Linked DNA regions of Homo sapiens. The protein of the gene in region 2 purifies or fractionates together with the protein of the main gene of each other region. This does not show direct contact. Each region holds a gene or a part of one and is shown on either strand. Other genes may lie near its edges. The genes, in order: ZMYND8 and ZNF687.

What was found.
Region 1: the proteins of ZNF687 (region 2) and ZMYND8 purify together in Homo sapiens (affinity purification with mass spectrometry; 4 studies listed by BioGRID and IntAct, with this or other methods). This does not show direct contact.

The regions. Positions count from the first base shown.
Region 1 is NC_000020.11:47,344,779-47,354,517, forward strand, and holds part of ZMYND8 (MYND-type zinc finger-containing chromatin reader ZMYND8), read right to left. Parts: exon of another isoform or gene 8,227-9,739; intron 7,963-8,226; exon of another isoform or gene 7,783-7,962; intron 6,972-7,782; exon of another isoform or gene 6,932-6,971; intron 6,501-6,931; exon of another isoform or gene 6,416-6,500; intron 5,211-6,415; exon of another isoform or gene 5,112-5,210; coding exon of another isoform or gene 5,083-5,111; intron 3,149-5,082; coding exon 3,078-3,148; intron 1-3,077. UniProt on the Homo sapiens protein: Chromatin reader that recognizes dual histone modifications such as histone H3.1 dimethylated at 'Lys-36' and histone H4 acetylated at 'Lys-16' (H3.1K36me2-H4K16ac) and histone H3 methylated at 'Lys-4' and histone H4 acetylated at 'Lys-14' (H3K4me1-H3K14ac).
Region 2 is NC_000001.11:151,276,691-151,287,169, reverse strand, and holds the start of ZNF687 (zinc finger protein 687), read right to left. Parts: upstream 4,872-10,479; 5' UTR 4,775-4,871; exon of another isoform or gene 4,760-4,774; intron 4,638-4,759; exon of another isoform or gene 4,611-4,637; coding exon of another isoform or gene 4,588-4,610; intron 3,983-4,587; coding exon of another isoform or gene 3,852-3,982; intron 1,965-3,851; exon of another isoform or gene 1,096-1,964; intron 896-1,095; coding exon of another isoform or gene 879-895; coding exon 1-878. UniProt on the Homo sapiens protein: May be involved in transcriptional regulation.

The DNA.
Region 1 (9,739 bases), on a different chromosome or scaffold from region 2:
TCTAATACTACTGTTAAATTAAAAGTTCATTTTAAAAATGTAATAGAAAATTGGCCAGGCATGGTGGCACATGCCTATAATCCCAGCACTTTGGGAGGTCAAAGAGGGAGGATCACTTGAGGCCAAGGGTTTCAGACCAGCCTGGGCAACCCACTGCGACCTCATCCCTACAAAAAAAAAATTTTTTTAATTAGCCAGGTGAGGTGGTGTGCACCTGTAGTCCCAGCTACTCAGGAGGCTGAGGTGGGAAGATAGCTTGAGCCCAGGAGATTGAGGCTACAGTGAGCTTTGAGCCCAGGAGATCAAGGATACAGTGAGCTATGATCATACCAGTGCACTCTAGCCAGGACAGTGCAGTGAGACGTTGTCTTTTATATATATATTTAAAACAGAAAATAATGAAATGACTCCTTCAGACTCCGTGGCCACCAAAAGCCTCTTTGAGGAGCCACCATCTGAGATAAGTCTGAGATCACAATGAGAAATGGGCAGCCTGCTCCTGGCAAAAGACACACAGGGGCCCCAAGGAAGGAACCAAGAGGAAGGAGGCCAAGGAGCTCAAGTGAAGTTGGGGGAGAAATGGCACAAGGTGAACAGAACATCACAAAGGAAACAAAGGTAAACAGGGCCGGCCCAGGTAGGCAGGTCACGGTGACTTCAGACCTGAGTGGAAGGGTACTGGAAAATCATCAGAAGGAGTTAGCAAAATGAGACAGAACCTGACCCACTTTTTTTTTTTTTTTTTTTAAGACGGAGTCTCGCTCTGTCCCCTAGGCCGGAGTGCAAAGGCGTGGTCTTGGCTCACTGCAACCTCCGCCTCCTGGGTTCAAGCAATTCTCCTGCTTCAGCCTCCCAAGTAACTGGGATTATAGGCACATGCTGCCACGCCCAGATAATTTTTTTGTATTTTAGTAGAGATGGGGTTTCACCGTGTTGCCCAGGCTGGTCTCGAACTCCTGAGCTCAGACAATCCACCCGCCTCGCCCTCCCAAAGTGCTAAGATTACAGGCGTGAGCCAACGCACTCTGTCCACTTTTTTTTTTTTAATAGAGATGGGGGCGGGAGGGGGGGGTCTCGTTAAGTTGCCCAGGCTGGTTTCAAACTCCTGGCCTCAACTGATCCTCCCACTTCAGTCTCTCAAGTAGCTGGGATGATTGGCATGCGCCACTGTGCCTGACCCCAATCCACGTTTTTGAAGCGCATTCTGGCTGCTGAAGGGTGAGGATGGGAGTAGGAGAAAAGAGAGAAAGAGACAATGGTCACTCAGCTTGGTCATGCTTGGATAGAATCTAATCCAACACCCCACTTCACAAATACAAAAATGAAGGGACAGAGCCAGTGTCCAAGCCCCCTGGGGAAGGTAAGCAGCAGAACAGGGACAAGACCCCCACCCTCCTGGCCCCCTCTCTTCAGTCCCTCTCCACTTTGCCCCGTCTCCTGCTGGACCACATTTGATTCTGACCACAACAAGGGGGCTGAGAAGTGGCTGAGAGGCACGTGCTCCTGCAACATCAAAAACACCTCTGTGAGAAGGTACCTTCCTTGCTCTGAAGTCCCTGGTGGCTCAGCTCTCTTCACCATCAATGGCACTGAAACTTCCTGCCACCCAGCACAGGCTGGGTCATGCTGTGATGAGGGGGCAGCAGCCCTCTGCCTCCGCCCAGCCTCCTCCTGCTGCTCCCCAGCACACAGCACCCACCCAGTAAGCCAGGCCTTCCCACCCAGGGTGCCTCCCCTTCTGTGACCCCTGCCAGAGATCAGCAGCCAGCTTCTGCTTCCCAGGTCCCAGCCTTGACTACTGGACCCTCAACTTTGCCCCAAAATGACATACTGTCTTTTTTTTTTTGAGATGGAGTCTTGCTCTGTCGCCCAGGCTGGAGTGCAGTGGTGCGATCTCAGCTCACTGCAACCTCCGCCTCCCAGGTTCAAGTGATTCTCCTGCCTCAACCTCCTAAGTAGCTAGGATTACAGGCGCGTGCCACCATGCCCGACTAATTTTTGTATTTTTAGTAGAGACGGGGGTTTCACCATGTTGGCCAGGCTGGTCTCGAACGCCTGACCTCGTGATGGTCCGCCTTGGCCTCCCAAAGTGCTGGGATTACAGGCATGAGCCACCACGCCTGGCGACACGCTGTCTTGTAACAATCCTCAAAATGCTTTTGGTTTCAGACGCCTTTAGGGAGTCACTTTGTGCGACACTCTGCAGCCAAATGAGAATCTCCTTCCGGCAGTATGCAGTAACCCTGTCCAGCCTCTTCCTCCCTCCCCATAACCCCCAGTGCAAGGCTGTGTGTTCCAAGAAAGCACTCAGTGACTTGTTGAAGGAATGAAAACACCTTGGTACAACCATTAAGTTTGGAGATGAGCCTTTTCATCAACCAAAGATACGAAAAATACTCCAGTAGCTCATTTGTGAAAGCACCCTGAAGGTAAAAGTGAATAACTGCTTCATTTTGGGAAGCCTCATAAAATCTCTTTCACAAAGACCAAATGAAAAGTACCAATCCCTCAATTAGAAGATATTCAGGAGTCTACTCCAGGCTTGTGAATAAACGCATAAATTGTGTTTGTCCTAATTTGCTAAATTTTGAACTAAATGCAAACACTGGCCCCGGCATCCCAGCAAGCTCTACATTTCCTTTTTATCTCTAACCCAAGACCACCACTTTCCAGTGAAGCGGGCTGACTTCATCCCACTTCTGGGATTCCAAAGAGGTCTGTTGTTAAAATCAGAAAACGAGCAGCAGCTAGAGGCTCTGGTGGCTTCCAGAACATGCTTTATTTAAACTGTGGCTCCTGAAAGTCACCCTGCGGAGAGGTAGCCAGCCACCCTCAGTCATGACACACAGGTAAAATTCACTGTCAGGACCCCTACACAGGCACCAGGGAAAGAAAACCAAAAGGAGGAGAGTTCTCCATCAATTAGGTTCATCCATCAAAAAATCTTATATCTGAAAATCCAAGAAGAGTTACAACGTCGGCTCAGAGAGCCACACACTTCACTGCACTACAACAACAAAAAGAAATTCCAATTTCCTCCTTAGCTCTAGAATAGATAATACAAGATTTTTACTCACCTTTGGAGCGAGTAGAGATATCCATGCCCTCTACCACCTCCTGTTCTGTTTTTATTTCCTCTTCAGCCAAGCTGAAACAGAGCAAATTATGTTCATGTTTAGGAAGGCTGAGAACTTGCCCCATGGGGGCAGCTATTTGGAAGTTCTAGCAACAAACACACCTTAAAGACATTCCCTCATCCTTATCCAGGGCTGGGGGAGGAAACCCACACCTGATTTCAACAAAGTGTGAAGAGTCCTAAAGGAGTTTTTTAAAACACTAGGTTGTTCTTTTTTTTTTTAAGTCAAATTACTATTCCAGTTGTCATGCTATTGGGGAATGCAAAAGGCAATTTTTTAGACACACAATTACAACCTACCCCTGTGGGCCAATGAGAACCCAGCCTTCAAATAAACAAGCTTCTCATTGTTAACACAGGGTTCAAAGGCAGGGAGGTTGGAGGTGTTTTGCAGGGTATCCAGAATTCTGATCGCTGAATACTTTAGGGCAAAGAGTAAGATTTCCCACACCTCCCCCTAAATCTTACAATTCCCTGATGAGGCAGGAACATGGGAAAAAAAAGATACAGGTTAAATTACAAAGCAGAAAAATATGCCCAGCTAGAAGCTAAAGACCTGGTCTCAAAACACTGAACCGAGGAGCACTGATTCCAGCAATCAGACTGGGGTCTCCACACTTCCAACCCCCTGAATGCTTCCTCTCTACAGCAGGCACGGCTTACTACTGAGTTGTGACTAATTATCCCCCACCACAAAAGTGGAATGAGGAAGGATTATTCAAAAGACAAAGGCTAAGAGTGGAGGGTTGGGGAGAGAAGCAAATAAAGCAAGCCCCTTTGCTGGGAGGGTCCGTCACCCAGAACATTCTCTCTCTCTCTCTGCTGGAACTAGGGTTGAAAGAGAGCCGGCCATATCAGATCTTCCTCCCACAGAGAACTCACAAGCTAAACCAAAGGGAAAAAATAGAGTTCTGCTTTCATAGATGCAAATGGTTTGAGGTGCTAGAACTTTCCAAACATTCAGGCTGACACTGAAGTGGTAAGAAGCTGGGCATTTACTCCAGAAGCAATTCCATCAGACTGTCGTTCCACAGGAAGAAATGGGTGCATCACCAATTGATATGGCTGGAATTTTCCATTTGGAAGACTCAACGCCAGGACAGGAAGGAGGCTGGGGAAGAGAGAATGTCCTGTCCTGGGGAAGAGAGAATGTTCCGTGGTCTGGGACTGTGACAACGCAAAAGGCCCAAAAAGACAGCCTCATGTCTCGAACCCTAGTATAAGGAGAAGATTTTAGGAGAGTTCCACGTTAGGAGGAGAGGACTTAGGATGGGAGCTAGATAGAATGGAAAAGATTATAGTTCAGAGTTAAATTATAGGGGCTTGGAGACGAAGAAAGGTAGTTGGGTTTAAATGAGAATATTAACACATTTAGCCATCTGATTTTGAACCCCGTTAACAATTTCATTTACACCGCATCTGTAAAGAAAGCCTGTGACACAAATCACCAAAGAAACAACTGACATGTTGTCACAAATGGTTTTCATCAGGAGAAAGCAGCCTGCTAAATTTAAACACATCGCTTATATGCAATAATACAACGGTGATTTATTGAAGGTTATTTCAGCACTAATGCTTTCTATTCCAACTTAAGGAGAAAACATTCTCAACTCAGAAACACTCTGCCTGAAACATACACAGGTTGTCCAACTGGATGCTGTTGATGGGTTCTGGCTTGGGGTGACTGGAAATACATCTTAACAAAAAGCCCCATGCAGCCCTCGGAGATGGGTAGACAGTTAACTTCAAAGGAACAAATAGCAACCTTGATCTTTTCTAGCAACTAGAATTCTGTTTCCCTCTCTAGCATGAAGTATGTGAAATTCTAAACTTCTTGAAACCGATCCCATATTTTGAGTAATAGAGAAAACGCTAATCTGTGATCCAACTGAAATCTACAGTGGTGAGGGAAACAATTATGCAGAACTGAGCCAAAAAAAACCCACTTGAAGGATTTCTGCAGCGATGAAAACATTCAAAGGTGTATTGATCATGGAGGAAGGCTGCATTCAAGGGAACCATTATTTGGCTTGTAACAGCCTAGAGGAGCTGAATACTTCAGGCAGGAATGCTGCTGAGAGACGAGGAAAATGCAAACTAGTTATGTGGTGGCTATTTGCTTCTGAGTTTTAAGATAATCAATGCTGGAGCAGAAGAGAGAGGGAAAAAAAAGTTAAGCTGTTTTATCTTTCCAAGTATTACAAGTGGGCACCATAATCACCCAACTTTAGCAATAGCACCACCAGCTTTAGCACAGCATTTCAAGCACAACAATTTAAGAAAACCATCTTTTTCACAGATCAGCAAACCATCCTTTCAAAAGGAACCCGTGCACACACATGCACGCACACTCACACACACAATTAACTTGTATTTGACTAAAGGAAACTGCAGTGTCTATGCATTAAAAGGAGAAAAAAAAAAAAAAAAAAAAAAAACTTCATTTACAAAAGCAAAGACCAGAATGCAAAATTAGTCATTTTGAATAGCCACATCTAAAGGGACTTCCTTTTTCCTACACCACTGATTTCGGTTTTTTTGTGTGTGTGTGTGTGTTTTTTTTTGATTTAGTGTTAAGAACTAGTATGTTATTAGGAAAAAAAAATGAATATTACATCAAAAGTAGGCGCAAGAAAAGATCTGTACCTGTCTGAATTGCCCCACTGATGTTGGTCAATTTAGGTTAAGAACTGTTCAGTCATTTGGGGGAAAAAAAACAGTCAAATAATTCTTAAAAAGAAAAGGCAGCTGCATCTGGAGAAAATACTCTGAACTTCTGTCATTAACACATTAAAGTCTTAGAACATAGACAGCTTATTTCCTTCCATATCTGCTAGCTTCCAGCAACCCTGATGATTTAAATCAAAAACAATGGGACAACAAGCTCTTGTTTCAAACTGACATTACTTTTTTCCCTTTAAAGGTCTGTTGAGGAAACTGGGGGCCCGCTACAGAAAAGGGTAAAATTAGCTGAAAAGCAAACAATTTCTCACTCCAATAGGAAAATACACCATCAACTAGTTAGATACATTGTATACACCACCACCTCTTACACTCACATTTACCCAAGTCATTTGCCTGCAGATTTCACAAACTGATACATTTGAGGCAATTCAAAGAAATAACAGTACCTGCAAAGATAACCAAGACCACCCCATCCCATCCCAAAAAGAATAAAAGATTTCTCCCCCAGTGCCTGAGCAAGAAAACCTATGCTTACTTCTTAACCTGCATGCACTGAAAAAAGAGCAATTAAAAGTTGCAGATGAACTACTGCACCTCCAGGATGCTTTAAGCCTTCTGATTGTTAATTCTGAGGACTCAGGGATGGTCCGTAATTCCCAGGAATCTCATCTCCTCAACACTTCCAAGAGAGAGAAAAAAGAAAGCATCTAGTTTTGACAGAAAAATGCCTGAATACACAATGCCCACATATTTCTTTTCCCCAAGTGCCCCTACTATTTGACTTTTAAAGAAGAGTATCTAAGCCATCTAGAATATATAACCAACATGCACAAGACTCTGGTTCTACAGATGAGGATCATCGCACAGCAATTCAAGAATCATGCATCATTCGAAAGGACTTTTCCTGGTTTTTACTTTTCATTCAAAATACCAAAATGGTCCAGGCTGTAAGAAATATTTAATCCCCAAGGCATAACATCTTCCTCTTCTAGATTACAAAATAGTGAACATCAAAATTAAAAACCATGCTTCCCTAAATCTACAATTAATTTTTTAAGAAATTGGGGTGGGGGGGAATGGTTAGCAGAGCAGCTTTATATAAGCACTCACCTAAAACAGGCAGAGTCATCGGTAGCTAAGCTATTTATGCAGGATTCTTAAAATGGCGTCTGGCAACACTGCCTCATTCCTGTGTTGAAGCTAAAATGGTAGCAGTTTGTTCAATAGCTGTAGCTCTTGTTTAAGCAGCCCTGCGAGTTTCAAAGCCACCTTCCTAAATACCAGAACTAGGAAAAGCTGAACCAAAGGACACCAACAACCCAACGTTTAGAAGCTTAAAAAAAACTCTGCAATGACAGGGAGAGTTTGTGAAGTCACAGGTTCCTAAGGAAAAGCCTTCTCTTGTAGATCCTGAGCCTTCAACATGAGGCTCTGTGATGAGGCCCCCTTGCCCTCAAATTAGGTGGGTAGAAGGTTAGGAATCGTGCAGCCCCGTGGCACAAACTGCAGACGGACAGGTGTCTGTGCAAACACAAAAATGTTCCCAGGGAGCAGCCTGGGGGAAGGCAAGGAGGAAGCCCGGTCCCCCTTCTCTTCTCAGTCTATTAGAAACCAGCTTTGCATCCATACCAAAAAGGCGCTAGGTAAAATGAAAGTGCTTCAAGGACAGCAGGCATCTGAAAAGCCAAGCTAAAGGGCTGCACCTCAGTCTACGGCAAAGGTAAAATAAAAAGGCTGTTTATAAGCCTGCAAACAGCCACCAAATACCCAGCCCTCTGAAGCAGCCAGTCCTAAGACAGTTAACATCAAGGAAAGACAATCCGAGTCTGCAGAGGAGAAACACAAGGAAAACATTCCCTTATCCAATGCACAGGATACTCACAAATTAGATTTCTGACCACCCCCAACAGAGCCTGAGAATTAACAATGGGTTTTGCAAAACCCGCTTTCAGAGGCCGAACTAACAGCCTGAGTGGATAACGTCATTTACTGTTACAGGTCTGAGCATTGGCCTCAGAACTCCTCTGGTGCTGGGAGTGAGGAGTTTCAAGGTGACTGCTTTTTAGCTCCAGGGGAGAAAGGAGGGCACAGTGCCCAAGGCCATGCCAGGGCAAGGACGGGCCACTGGCCCCCGCCGGCCGGTAGGTAAGGTAATCGGGATGGGGGGGACAGGCTGGCAGCACACTGGCTGCAGAGCTGGCATGGCCACTGCCTGTTTGTTTGTCTGCAAGGAGAGTGGGAAGTAGCGGGGAGGGTGACCATAACCTTAGCAACCTGAAGCCAAGGGTGAACCCTTGCTCAGATCTTGCATTTTAAGAGTAACCAAAGGGTTCTGAAACATATTCCCTTTTTAAATCTCTGCTGTGCAGTAGCGAAGGCCCCTTTGAATGTATCTTTCTTTCCAGAGTCAACCAGAGGCAAAGCCAGATTGAGGGTTCCCAGGCTGACAAATGTCTGCTGCCTCTGCCACAGGAGAGAGAAGGGGAAAGAGGGCAAAAGAAACAAAGACATCACGCGTTGCAAGTGGCTGGACTTTTAAAAACCTACCTTTGCCTCCAGGGTTTTCTAGGTTACTGTCACCCCACTTCCTAAAAAGTGTCTCCCCCCTCATCCTATTTAAGACCTGATGCAGTCTCCCCACTGGTTCTCCCAGGGAAAGAAAAGGGGAAATGTTTTGTTGAAAATAAAAGGGATGACAAGAAAGAAAGGAAAAAAAGCTATTGTTTTCATCCCTAATTTATAATCCAAGAGGCCCCCAATTGTTTCTTTCTGACTCAAATCTTTGAGCTGTTAATTATAAAAGTAACTGGACTTGGCGCCAACGGGCTAACTATGATCAGGCTCAGCAATTAGAAAAACTCTGTAGAAAGTTTACTGAGTGATTATATATAATTAATTCCTAGTTACAGACTGAACACTGACCATTTTCTGGAGCTAATAAAAGCAGTTACTCCCCCTCCCCCACGTGAATGCCACTTAATTTCCCAAAGCAGAAAGTGAATCCATCCTGGAGGGTCTTGAAGGAAAAAAAAGGAGAGGAATCAAAAGCTTCAGTGTGTCTGTGTTTGCTCCTTGCAGCTGTGTATCCTCTTTGGGGACTGAGGAGGCAGAAGGAAAAAGGAAAACAGCCCAACATTCTGTTCCTCCTTCTGCAATTTACAAACGTGGCAGAGAGAACATTCTACCTTGATGAGAAAAAGAAGGGGGGTTGGGGGGAAGCAGGGAAGGGAGATGACCTAGGAATGGAAGGTAGGAGACGCTTCTGCTTGGCAGATCTGCTTTTCCTAAAAGGAACAAAGATGGTAGAAATTTCCAGAAGGCCCGTTCTTAGTTCGGCCACTGCAATTGTCAATCTTTAACCTTTCCTCCAAGTCTATTGGTTTAAAAGCTAGAGTAGAAGAACCCCATTGGGCTGCTCTGGGAGCCAGTACTGCCGTCCCTACCTAGTCCTGCTGCAATGCAGACATTTATTTTTTTCCCCCTTTCCTGAAACTGGAAAATAATGCTACTTTGAAAGCAATTAACTTTTTACAGACTCATGCTTGGTAGGGGTCACAGTACCAGAGGAAAAGTGGCTAGCTTGGTCCAGGGTTGGGAACTTGCTGGGGGCTGTACATTTGAAAACAGATCTTGGCTCTCCAAACCTGTGGGAGCCATTTTAATGCAAGCTTTTAGAGGACAAATGCCTTGCCCTTAAGTTCCCTTCCAGCCCAACAAACACAGTATTATGCAAACGTTGAAGGCACCAAACCAGGAGTCTTATGATTAGATATTGCTTCTAGGGAGGCCACAAGAACCTCGATATGTAATTTCCATTTACAGCAAGGAGATAAGAACAAAGAAAATAGCTGAGTGTCTGAACTTACTTGTTTGGGGCAGTGGCACTGTTCAGTTTTAAGTATATAACATCATTAACTG
Region 2 (10,479 bases):
GGCCCCTCATCATCATCTTCTTCCTTCAAGGGCTGACAGACGGGCACTTTGGGGGAGGCAAGAGGGCTCTGGTGCCCTGGAGACTGCTTGAAGAAGGGCACCCCAGCAACTGGGGGAGGCGAGGCACTGGCAGGGATGTCCGTGGCCTTAGGGCTGGAGCCTGAGCCTTGTTGGGCTAGGACCTGGGGATGATGGGGGCTGCAGCTCTCCTGCTTCAAGGCCCCCAATGGTGGGGAAGAAACAGGTGGCTGCATGCCTGGGCCATTCTCCTGGGCCAGCTCAAAGGAAGAGGGGAAAGGAGGCGGGGTCAGAGCCCCCTCCCGAGTGGGAGAGGGTGCAGAGGGAGGCAGCGGATCTGAGTGGTCCCCTGGCTCAGGGCCAAAATGAGCAAACAGGTCCAAGGGAGTTTTGCCTTCCATGCCTTTTTCTTTCCAGGTGCCCCCACTGGGAGGAGCAGGAGAGTGGGGAGTTCCTGGGAGGGAAGGTTCAGGGCTCCCAAAACCATTCTGCATTCGATGAGGCCCCACAGGCCCTTCTTTAGTTACCCCAGCAGCCTGGGCCCCGTCTCCTGCTGAGCCTCCAGCCAGGGCCTCAGACTGCTCGGGACACACAGTGTTCTTGACAATGACACTGACTACAGAAATGTCTGGCGGTGGCAGGCCATGGTCAGAGGCCTGGGCTGGAACTCCAGGGCCATCCCCAGCAGAGGCTGCTGCTGTGTCTTCAGATTCACTTCCTACACCTGGTTCTGGCTTCCCTGGGCCTCCAGGCCCCTCATTTTCTTCTGGCCCAGAATGGATGGCTTCATTCGCATCAATGTCAGGGATGTCAAAGGCAGCAAGGAGGTCATCAAAATCAGGGGTCTTCATATCCCCCATATCGGCAGATCCCAGACCTGATGAAAACAGGAACGAGGAGGAGAAACTGAGATGTCTAGAAGAGAGATCCTGGAGCTCTTCCCTCAGCATCTCCATATTTATCCTCTCTCAGAACCCACATACACTCCAACTTAGGTACACCTCCGCCACGGCATGAATCCTACAGAGCTGCTAGGTTTGCCAAACCTTAAAATCAGAAGAGGATTAGTGTCCATACCTTGGTGGGCTCCAAAATCCAGAGAAAGCAGGGGAAAAGAGAGTTCTTAGAAATACAGGGAAGGGGCCAGGTGCGGTGGCTCATGCTTGTAATCCCAGCGTTTTGGGAGGCTGAGGCAGATGGATCACTTGAGGTCAGGAGTTTGAGACCAGCTTGGCCAACATGGTGAAACCTTGTCTCTACTAAAAATACAAAAAACTAGACAGGTGTGGTGGCACATGCCTGTAATCGCAGCTACAAAGGAGGCTGAGGCAGGAGAATCGCCTGAACCCATGAGGTTGAGGTTTCAATGAGCCAAGATCACGCCACTGCACTCCAGCCTGGACAGAGCGAGACCCTGTCTCAAAAAAAAGAAATATAGGGGGCTGGGCATGGTGGCTCACGCCTGTAATCCCAGCACTTGGGGAGGCAGAGGCGGGCGGATCACGAGGTCAGGAGATCAAGACCATCCTGGCCAAGATAGTGAAACCCCGTCTCTACTAAAAATACAAAAATTAGCTGGGCATGGCAGCACACACCTGTAGTCCCAGCTACTCGGGAGGCTGAGGCAGAAGAATTGCTTGAACCTGGGAGGTGGAGTTTGCAGTGAGCTGAGATCGTGCCACTGCACTCCCACCTGGGCGACAGAGCAAGACTGTCTCAGAAAAAAAAAAAAAATACAGGGAACAGGGAAGGGTAATAGAGCTCAGTGAGCATTCTGGTGGAAACCATCTCATCCCCTCCGGTCCCCAGCATAGAACCAAATAATCAATACTATTATTAAGGAGGATGATGTACATGATGTTCTAGGTTTAAGGACTCATTCATGTCCGCATGGAATCAATTCATATTCTTCACGGATCTTCTGGGGTCCACACAGATCTGAAAGGCTGCATGTACAAAGGGACAATGCCATAAGCCAAGACTTAAGAAATGATCCTCGTTCAGCTTTATCAGGGGCGTGCAGTACAAGCAAGTTTCTTCAGTGCCTTACTTTTGCTGTTTGAAAGAGGACACAAATGGCCGGGTGTGGTGGCTCACATCTGTAATCCCAGCACTTTGGGAGGCCAATCACTTGGGCCCAGGAGTTCAAGACCACCCTGGGCAACATGGTGAAACTCCCCAGGCATGATGGCACGTGCCTGTAGTCCCAGCTATGCCTCCCAGCTGACATGGGAGGATCCCCTGAGCCCGGGAGGTCGAGGCTGTGATGGGCCATGATCATGCCACTGCACTCCAGCCTGGGTGACAGAGTGATACCGTCTCAAAAAAAAAAAAAAAAAAAAAAAAAAAGACAAGACAAGGCAGAGAGCACAAGTGATCTATGTATCATAGGGTTATTCTGAGCATAATACAAAATTGCTAATGTAAGAATCCCACCAAGAATACGATTTACTATTCCAGATGAACCAAGCAAGGACATGTCAGGTCAAGGAGGAACTGGAAAGGAATAAGCACTGGAACTCTAGGGCTGGGGTCGGAGGCAAGAGTCAGGGGTCATGCAGGATCAAGTCTAGGGCACCTGGGCCATCACTGGCACCTGGAGATCTAGCTTGGTCAGCAGGGAGAAAAGGACTCAAGGAAATTACCCAAGAGACCAAGATGGAAAGAATAAGACACAGGAACAGAAAGAGACAAAGAGAAGAGACAGAGGGGAAAATGGTGATGGCAGCCTGGTCACAAGGGCCCCAGCCTAGACCTCTCCTGTCACAAACACCTGCTGCTCGCTCACTACCTTCCCCAGAGTGCCTGGCCCTCCCCTAGCCAGCCCTTCCTTCTCCACCCCTCCCCATCTTGCTTTCCCGAGGCTAAAACTCCCAAGATACATACACATTTCTCCAGCACAGCTGCCACAGTGGGAAAAAGCCAGGCTCCCTCAACCCTCACCCATCATTTCTGCTCCAAGCTCCTCACCCCATTCCATCCCCTAACTTTAACTCCTCACCCTTTCCATTTTCCTGTGGCAACAGTAGCCCAGGAAGTTTCACCTAGCCTCAACCTGGCCAAGTGCAAAAAATAAAATTAAAAATCCCACAAGAATTATGTGGCACTAATCCAACAAGCAGGCCAGCTCAGAGTTTGTGGGAGACCCAGGTCTGTCCCCTACCAGTGTCTCCCCATGAGTGTTTCTGTATCTACGAAGAAGCAACTAAAGAGTCTATCCCTATCCATTCCCTGCCCAGGTTGCAGGCCATTTCCCAGCCAGCTCTCCCACCTCTCTCCAGTCTTCAGACTGTAACTAGAGACAGTCCCAGCAAGTGGCAGCTGGGATTGCTGGGACCAAGGTTGGGGTGGGGGCAAAACCAAAGGGGGAGTCCTCCCCTCACCCCCACCCTATTCAATTCTGCAGAATCTGGGTTTAAACAAAAACCCTTGTCTCTATAGGCCTGGCTCCTAAGCCTGGTTCCCTCCTGACCAGAGGCCTGAGCTACCTTCCACTCAGGTACTCAGAAAAGTGGACTGCTACAACGAAGACCAGCGGGGACTAGGAGAAAACACCTGCGAACTCACCCGCCCCCACACCCCGCCAGCCACCTCCCTCTTGGGTGCCCCAGTGACTTAGAGGTCATCCGATGGCCACCCACCCAGAGCAGACAGTCGACCAAGCAAGCCGCCAAGCTCAAGCCAAGGAGGATCAGGCCTTCCTGCGACTGCTGAGCCCTGTCTCTAGGGCTCCTATCTCCCCCGCCCCCTTTCCCTCTGTGGTTCCCCAAAAGCCAAAGAGGCTGAACAGGAAGAGGCTGAACAGGCCCAGGTCGAGTGGGGGCTCCACTGACCTTTGCCCGGGCCCAAGGCCTGCAGCGCAGAGGAGGGCGAGGGGCTGGCGGCGATTAGGTTGAGGCCAAGCTGGGTAGCAGACGGAATTAAGTCCCTGCCATCTGCCGAGGGCTGGCGCGGGGAGCAAGTCCTGGGTTTCGAGGAGGGGGCGGGGTGTACACATGAGAAACTACAAGGGAAACTGAGGCGCGCGGCCCTTCTCTCACTCGCACCGGCGTGCGAAGCGAAGGCCGGGCCTCAGCCAGGCCAGGCCCTTTGGGAGCTGCTGCGCAGCACCTGGGGACCCAGGACTACACAGGATAGGGTGGGGAGCTGGAAAGAGGGGAGGAGAGAGGGGACGGTCTCTGCGCGACTCTCAGCTCTCTAGCTGGGGTCCGTCCCAACTCGGACCTCGTCCCCTCCCCTCCGGGCGCAGCGGAGCCTCCTCCCGCCGCGCACTCCCGGAGGCTCGCTAGAGACTGGAGACTGATCGGGGGGTGCGCAGGGGGCCGGGGGCGCAAGCCTGAGTCTTGCCCGGGCCCGGACGCTGACCCGCACCCAGTCGGGGTGCAGGTTCTGCTCCGGCCTGGCCCAGGTCCCCCGCCCCCATCCCCGGGAACGGACACCATTTTAGGTCGCGACATCCCGCAGCCTTCAATCTCCGGGCCGCACTTCGGGTGCCTCTCGAGCCGGGGGCGCCAGGACCTGGGGTTCTCGACCCTCCTGGGGGTTTACCCGGCTACGGACTGTGCTTACAACAGGCCAGGAGTTTCGCCCATCCGCCCCAATGGATGGAGGCGGTGTCTGGGCCTTCCTAGAAGCCGCCCCAGGGGGCGGCGCGGAGAAGGGGGTAGTTGACCAAGTGGGGGAGGGGCGGGGGTATTTACCCGCCCCCCCCAAGGGGGCGGAGCCAAGGGCGGGTATTTACCCCAGGCACGCTTACTTGTTCCGCTCCTGGTGCGGGCCGAGACCCGGCGGTCTCTACCCCGCTCCAGCCGCTGCAGCCACCGCCGCCCTCCCCGCGGCCGCCGCTACTTCCTGCTTCTCTCCGGTTCGGCCTCCCCACTCCCTCTCCTCCCTCCGCGCTCCAGGTCTGGGCTGCCCGTTTTCGCACTCGCCATTGGCCCTTGCCCCCGTCGCTCAGCCCTGTGCCCCTTCCAGCCCCGCACTGGGTTGGCCCTAAATACTGCCGCTCGGAACTAGCCCCGCACAGTCCTCTTATGCTCATTGGGCAAGGGGCCGAGGCCCTCTGAAGATACCTCTCCCCATTGGCTGCGCCGGGGTCCGTCTGCCCCATCTACGAGTCTCGTAAACGATTGGCCTCCGCCACTGTCGCTTAGAAAGAAGCCAGCCTGCTTCCCAGCTTGCCTACTGGAAGGGGGAGCACCCAGGTGCGTCTCCGCCCCTCGCTCCCTACTGGCCGCTCGAAGCTTGAAGCTGCAGTTCACTTTCGCGAATGTAAGGAACCCAGCTTCTGTGTGGTGGGCACTGAGAGCAGAACCGCATTGAGTCGGAGTGGAGCACAGAAGTGTAGGTCCTTTTGCGCTGTTTCAAGCTAAACCCGTGTCACTGATGCCGTACAGAAGTTACAGAATGGGACGCCACCCCAAACATTACGTCATCCGCTGACCATTTCCTTGCGGTCTTCCCACCGTCTAAATCGCCATATAATCTGATGGATGGGGTCCTCGCGCGGTTCAGCTCCTGGGCGACAGCGTAACCCGTCGCTCCTCCCTCTGCGGGAGGGCGTGGACGGGGCACGGGATTTGGAGCATGGAAGGAATCGGGACCTAAAGGTTGGGAAGGGCTCGCGGACCGGAAGCGGGGGAGGTGACGTAGGAGTGCTGGCGTGGCCGGGCCATTTCCAAAGAGGCATTAAAGGAGCAACTGATAGGCGTCCTAAGTATGGGCTGGGGGGGGAACCGCCAGCTCCATTTCCCATTTAAGGGCTCCCCTTTTCCCCGCCCCCAGCATGGAGTGGGGGTGGGGTCAAGGTCGAGTTTTCCCGCGCTTTGTTGCCACGCCCCCTGGAGGCGGGGGAAAGGGAGGAGTCGCTCGGAAAATGAATCTCCTTGATGCTCTAATAGCACTCACTGGCAGAATTCGTATGCAAGCCCAGTGTGCCACCTCGCGCACGCAGCCGCTCGTTAACGGCGTGTTTTTATTTTTTAATTAATTTTTTTGAGGCAGAGCCTCACTCTGCTGCCCAGGCGGGAGCACAGTGGCGCGATCACGGCTGACTGCAGCCTCAACCTCCCAGGCTCCAGTGATCCTCCCGCCTCAGCCTCCTGAGTAGCTGGGACTACAAGTGAGCGCCAAATCGCCCTGCTAACTTTTTTATTTTTTGAAGAGACAGGGTTTTGCCATGTTGCCCAGGCTGGTCTCAAGCAATCCTACAGACGTGAGCCACTACTCCCTACCTTGGCGAAGTTTTTTATTTTTTATTTTTTGAAACGGGGCCTCATTCTGTCGTCCAGACTGGAGTGCAGTGGCGGGATCTCGGCTCACGGCAACCTCCGTCTCCCAGGCTCAAGCAATTCTCCTGCCTCAGCCTTCCGACCAGCTGGGATTACAGGTGTGCGACACTACCCGCCCGGCTAATTTTTGTTTTTTTCTTTTTTTTTTTTTTTTGAGACGGAGTCTCGCTGTGTCGCCCAGGCTGGAGTGCAGTGGCGCGATCTCGGCTCACTGCAAGCTCCGCCTCCCGGGTTCACGCCATTCTCCTGCCTCAGCCTCCCGAGTAGCTGGGACTGCAGGCGCTCTCCACAATGCCCGGCTAATTTTTTGTGTTTTTAGTAGAGACGGGGTTTCACCGTGTTAGCCAGGATAGTCTTGATCTCCTGACCTCGTGATCCGCCCGCCTCGGCCTCCCAAAGTGCTGGGATTACAGGCATGAGCCACCGCGGCCGGCCATTTTTGTATTTTTAGTAGAGACGGGGTTTCACCGCATTGGCCAGGCTGGTCTCGAACTCCTGACCTCAAATCATCCATCCGCCTTGGCCTCCCAAAGTGCTGGGATTACAGATGTGACCCACCGGGCCCGGCAAAGTTTTTAAAAGTGGTTTCGTTACCCTGCCCAGGAGTCCCAGGACACCGGAACCAGGACTCCCCGGCGCACCCGGAGAGTTTCCGAGCTCCTTTGAAGTATGAATCAGAACTTCTGGATGGGAATCCTGGAGCCACCACTTGCCCTATGGTCGCAATGGGCAAGTCGCTCAACCTCCCAGATCCTGTTTTCTCATGAGTAAAACGGGGATTATAATACCCACCTGACAATATTATTTTTGTGAGAATTAAATGAGTTTAGAATGTAAACACGCTTTGTAAAGTAATTGGCAGTTGGGATTAGTGTGCCCTTTCTCCCGGAGCCTTGCATCCTGTGCATTTGCTCAGGTGCTGTTCCTTCTCTGAGCAACTAATTAAAGGTCCCTAACCCGATGTAACCAACCGGCATTCCATTTCCACCTCCTCTTCTGGTCTCCCTATGCGGAATAACAATTACTACTCATATACACATAATATTTTGGGGGGCTCACGCCTGTAATCCCAGCACTTTGAGAAGTCTAGGTGGGTAGCTCACTTGAGCCCTGGAGTTCGAGACTAGCCTGTGCAACACAGCAGGACTCTGCCTCTACAGAATATTTGGAAAAAAAAATTAGCCAGGGGTGTTGGCAGGCACCTGTGATCCCAGCTACTGGGGAGGCTGGGATGGAAGGATCGCTTGAGTCCAGGAAGTCAAAACTACAGTGAGCCGGGATCGCACCACTGCACTCCAACCTGGGAGACAGAGCGAGACTCTGTCTCAAAAAAAAAAAAAAAAAAAACACACACACACAGAAAAACTTTATTTATTTTATTAATAAACATATTATTAATAACTCACGTAGTCCTTACCACAACCATGGAAGGAGGTACTATTTCAGGTACTGGAGATGTAGCAATGAACAAAGCAGACAAGAAGCCCTGTCATGAAACACACATTCCTAAAGAGAAGACAAACAATAAATATTAGAAATGGTAGCTGCCAAGGAATAAAATAGAGTTATCAAGCCATGCAAAGACAGAGGAATCTTCGATGCATATGACTAAGTGAAAGAAGCCAATCTGAAAAGGTTGCATGCTGTATGATTCCAGCTATGTGACATTCTAGAAAAGGCAAAACTATAGAGAGTAAAAAGATCAGTGGTTGGTTGCTGAGGGTTCAGGTGGAGGGAGAGAGATGAATAAATAAATGGAGCACAGGGGACTCTTACAACACTGAAACTATTCTATGTGATACTGTAATAGTGGATACATGTGTCAACAGCCATGGAATGTACAACACAAAGAGTGAACCCTGTGAGCATGGTGGCTCACACATGTAATCCCTGAACTTTGGGAGGCCAAAGCGGGAGGATCAACAAAAAATTTGAAAAATTAGCCGCGTACAGTGGCGCACACCTGTAGTCCCAACTACTCAAGTGGCTGAAGCAGGAGAGTCCCTTGAGCCCAGAAGTTTGAGGCTGCAGTGAGCTACGATCCTGCTGCCGCACTCCAGCCTGGGCAACAAAGTGAGACCCTGTCTCTTAATAATAATGTTTCCATATTGGTTCATCAATTGTAACAAATGTACCACACTAATGCGAGATATTAATAAATAATAGAGTAACCTGAGCAACATGGAGAGACCCCATCTCTACAAAAAAACTTTTTTTTAAGTAGCGTGGCATGGTGGTGCACACCTGTGGTCCCAGCTACTTGGGAGGCTGAGGAGGGAGAATCACCTGAGCCCTGGAGGTCAAGGTTGCAGTGAGCTGTAATCACACCACTACACCCCAGCCTGGGCAAAAGACCAAGACCTTGTCTCAAAATAATAATAATAATAGGGGAAACTGGAGAGAGAGGATGTGTGGGAACTCGCATTTTGTGCTCAATTTTTCTGTAAACCTAAAAATGCTGTAAAAAATAAAGTGTATTAATTTAAAAACAAAAACAATTTAAAAAAAAAAACAAAGCAGGCGGCTGGGCGCAGTGGCTCATGCCTGTAATCCCAGCACTTTGGGAGGCCGAGGCGGGTGGACCATGAGGTCAGGAGATCAAGACCATTCTGGCTAACATGGTGAAACCCTGTCTCTACTAAAAATACAAAAAATTAGCTGGTCATGGTGGCACACGCCTATAGTCCCAGCTACTTGGGAGGCTGAGGCAGGAGAATCGCTTGAACCCGGGAGGCAGAAGTTGCATTGAGCCGAGATCGCACCACCACACTCCAGCCTGGGTGACAGAGCAAGACTCTGTCTCAAAAAAACAAAAACAAAAGCAAGGAAAGATGACAGTAAGTGTGGGAGGGTTGCAATTTTAGGTAGGGTGGACAGTAAAGGCCTTTTCGAGAAGATGGTGGTTAAGTAAAGGTCTGAAAGAGATGAGGGAGTGAGCCATGCAGCTATCTGGGACAAGAACATTCCAGGAGGAAAGAACAAGTACAAGGTCCTCAGGAGGGGAGTGTGTTCCAGAGGGGGTGGGAGGAGTGAATTGGGTCATGGGATGCTTTGGAAGCTATGGGAAGGTCTTTGGCATTTTCTCACGGTGGGTTAGAAAGCCATCAAAAGGAGACAGATGACATGGTGGCCTGACTTAAACGTTTTAAAAGGGTTGAAAGTGGGGTGTGGAAGAAAGAAAAAGACTCCAAAGCATGGAGGCTGAGGAAGTAGAAGCATGATGTTGCCCCATTTCTTGAGCTGAGAAGACTACAGGAGATGCAGGTTTTAGGGGTTAGGTCGGTAGCTCAGTTTTAGTCATGTTGAGGTATTACACATCCAAGTGGAGATACAAATGTAGGTGTCATCAGCTTATAGATAGTATTTAAAACCCAGGTCAGAATGGATGAGATCACCAAGGGAGGATTGAGGCATGGGAAACTCCGAAGTTAAAAGGTCAAGGAGATGAGAAGAACAGCAAAGAGGAAGGAAGGAACCAGGAGAGTGTTGTAACCTTCAAGCTAAATTTAAAAAGTATCTCAAGAAAGAGGAAGAGAGAATGATAGTCAGATGCCACTAAAATATCAAATAGGATGAAACCTGAGAATTGACCAATGGATTAAGGCAAAATGGAGGTCACTGGTGATCATGATGAGGAGAGAGTTGATGGACTGGTGGGGACAAAAGCCTTCATGGAATGGGTTTACAAGAATGGAGGAGGAAAAAAGAAAAGTCACTATAAAACTCTTTCAAAGGAAGGAAGGAGAAAAAAGATGGTAACTAGAGGAAAAAGAGTGACCAAGAGGACTATTTCTTTTAATGGTTACATTTTTTTCTCATCAGGTTCTACTGACCCAAGGAAAGGACTGTTTGAAGATGAAGAAGTTGTATGTCAGTACACGGGTGGGGAGGATCCTGTAGACAGGAAAAACCGAAGTTGTAGCAGAGCGATAGGGAAAGTTTCTGGAGTCATGTTCTTCAGAAGGTGAGCGAGAGGGTCAAGTTCACAAACAGAGGAATTGCCTTACACAGGGGCAGGGACAGTTCCCGAATAATAATTGGGAGAGAAGGCAGAGTGAGCGGGCATGGGTCGAGGGAGCTGGGGAGCTGTGGGATATCTCTTTGTTGCTTCTGTTGTCCAGTGGTATAAGAAACAAGAACATGTGTTGTCAAACTCTTCGTGGGAATAAAA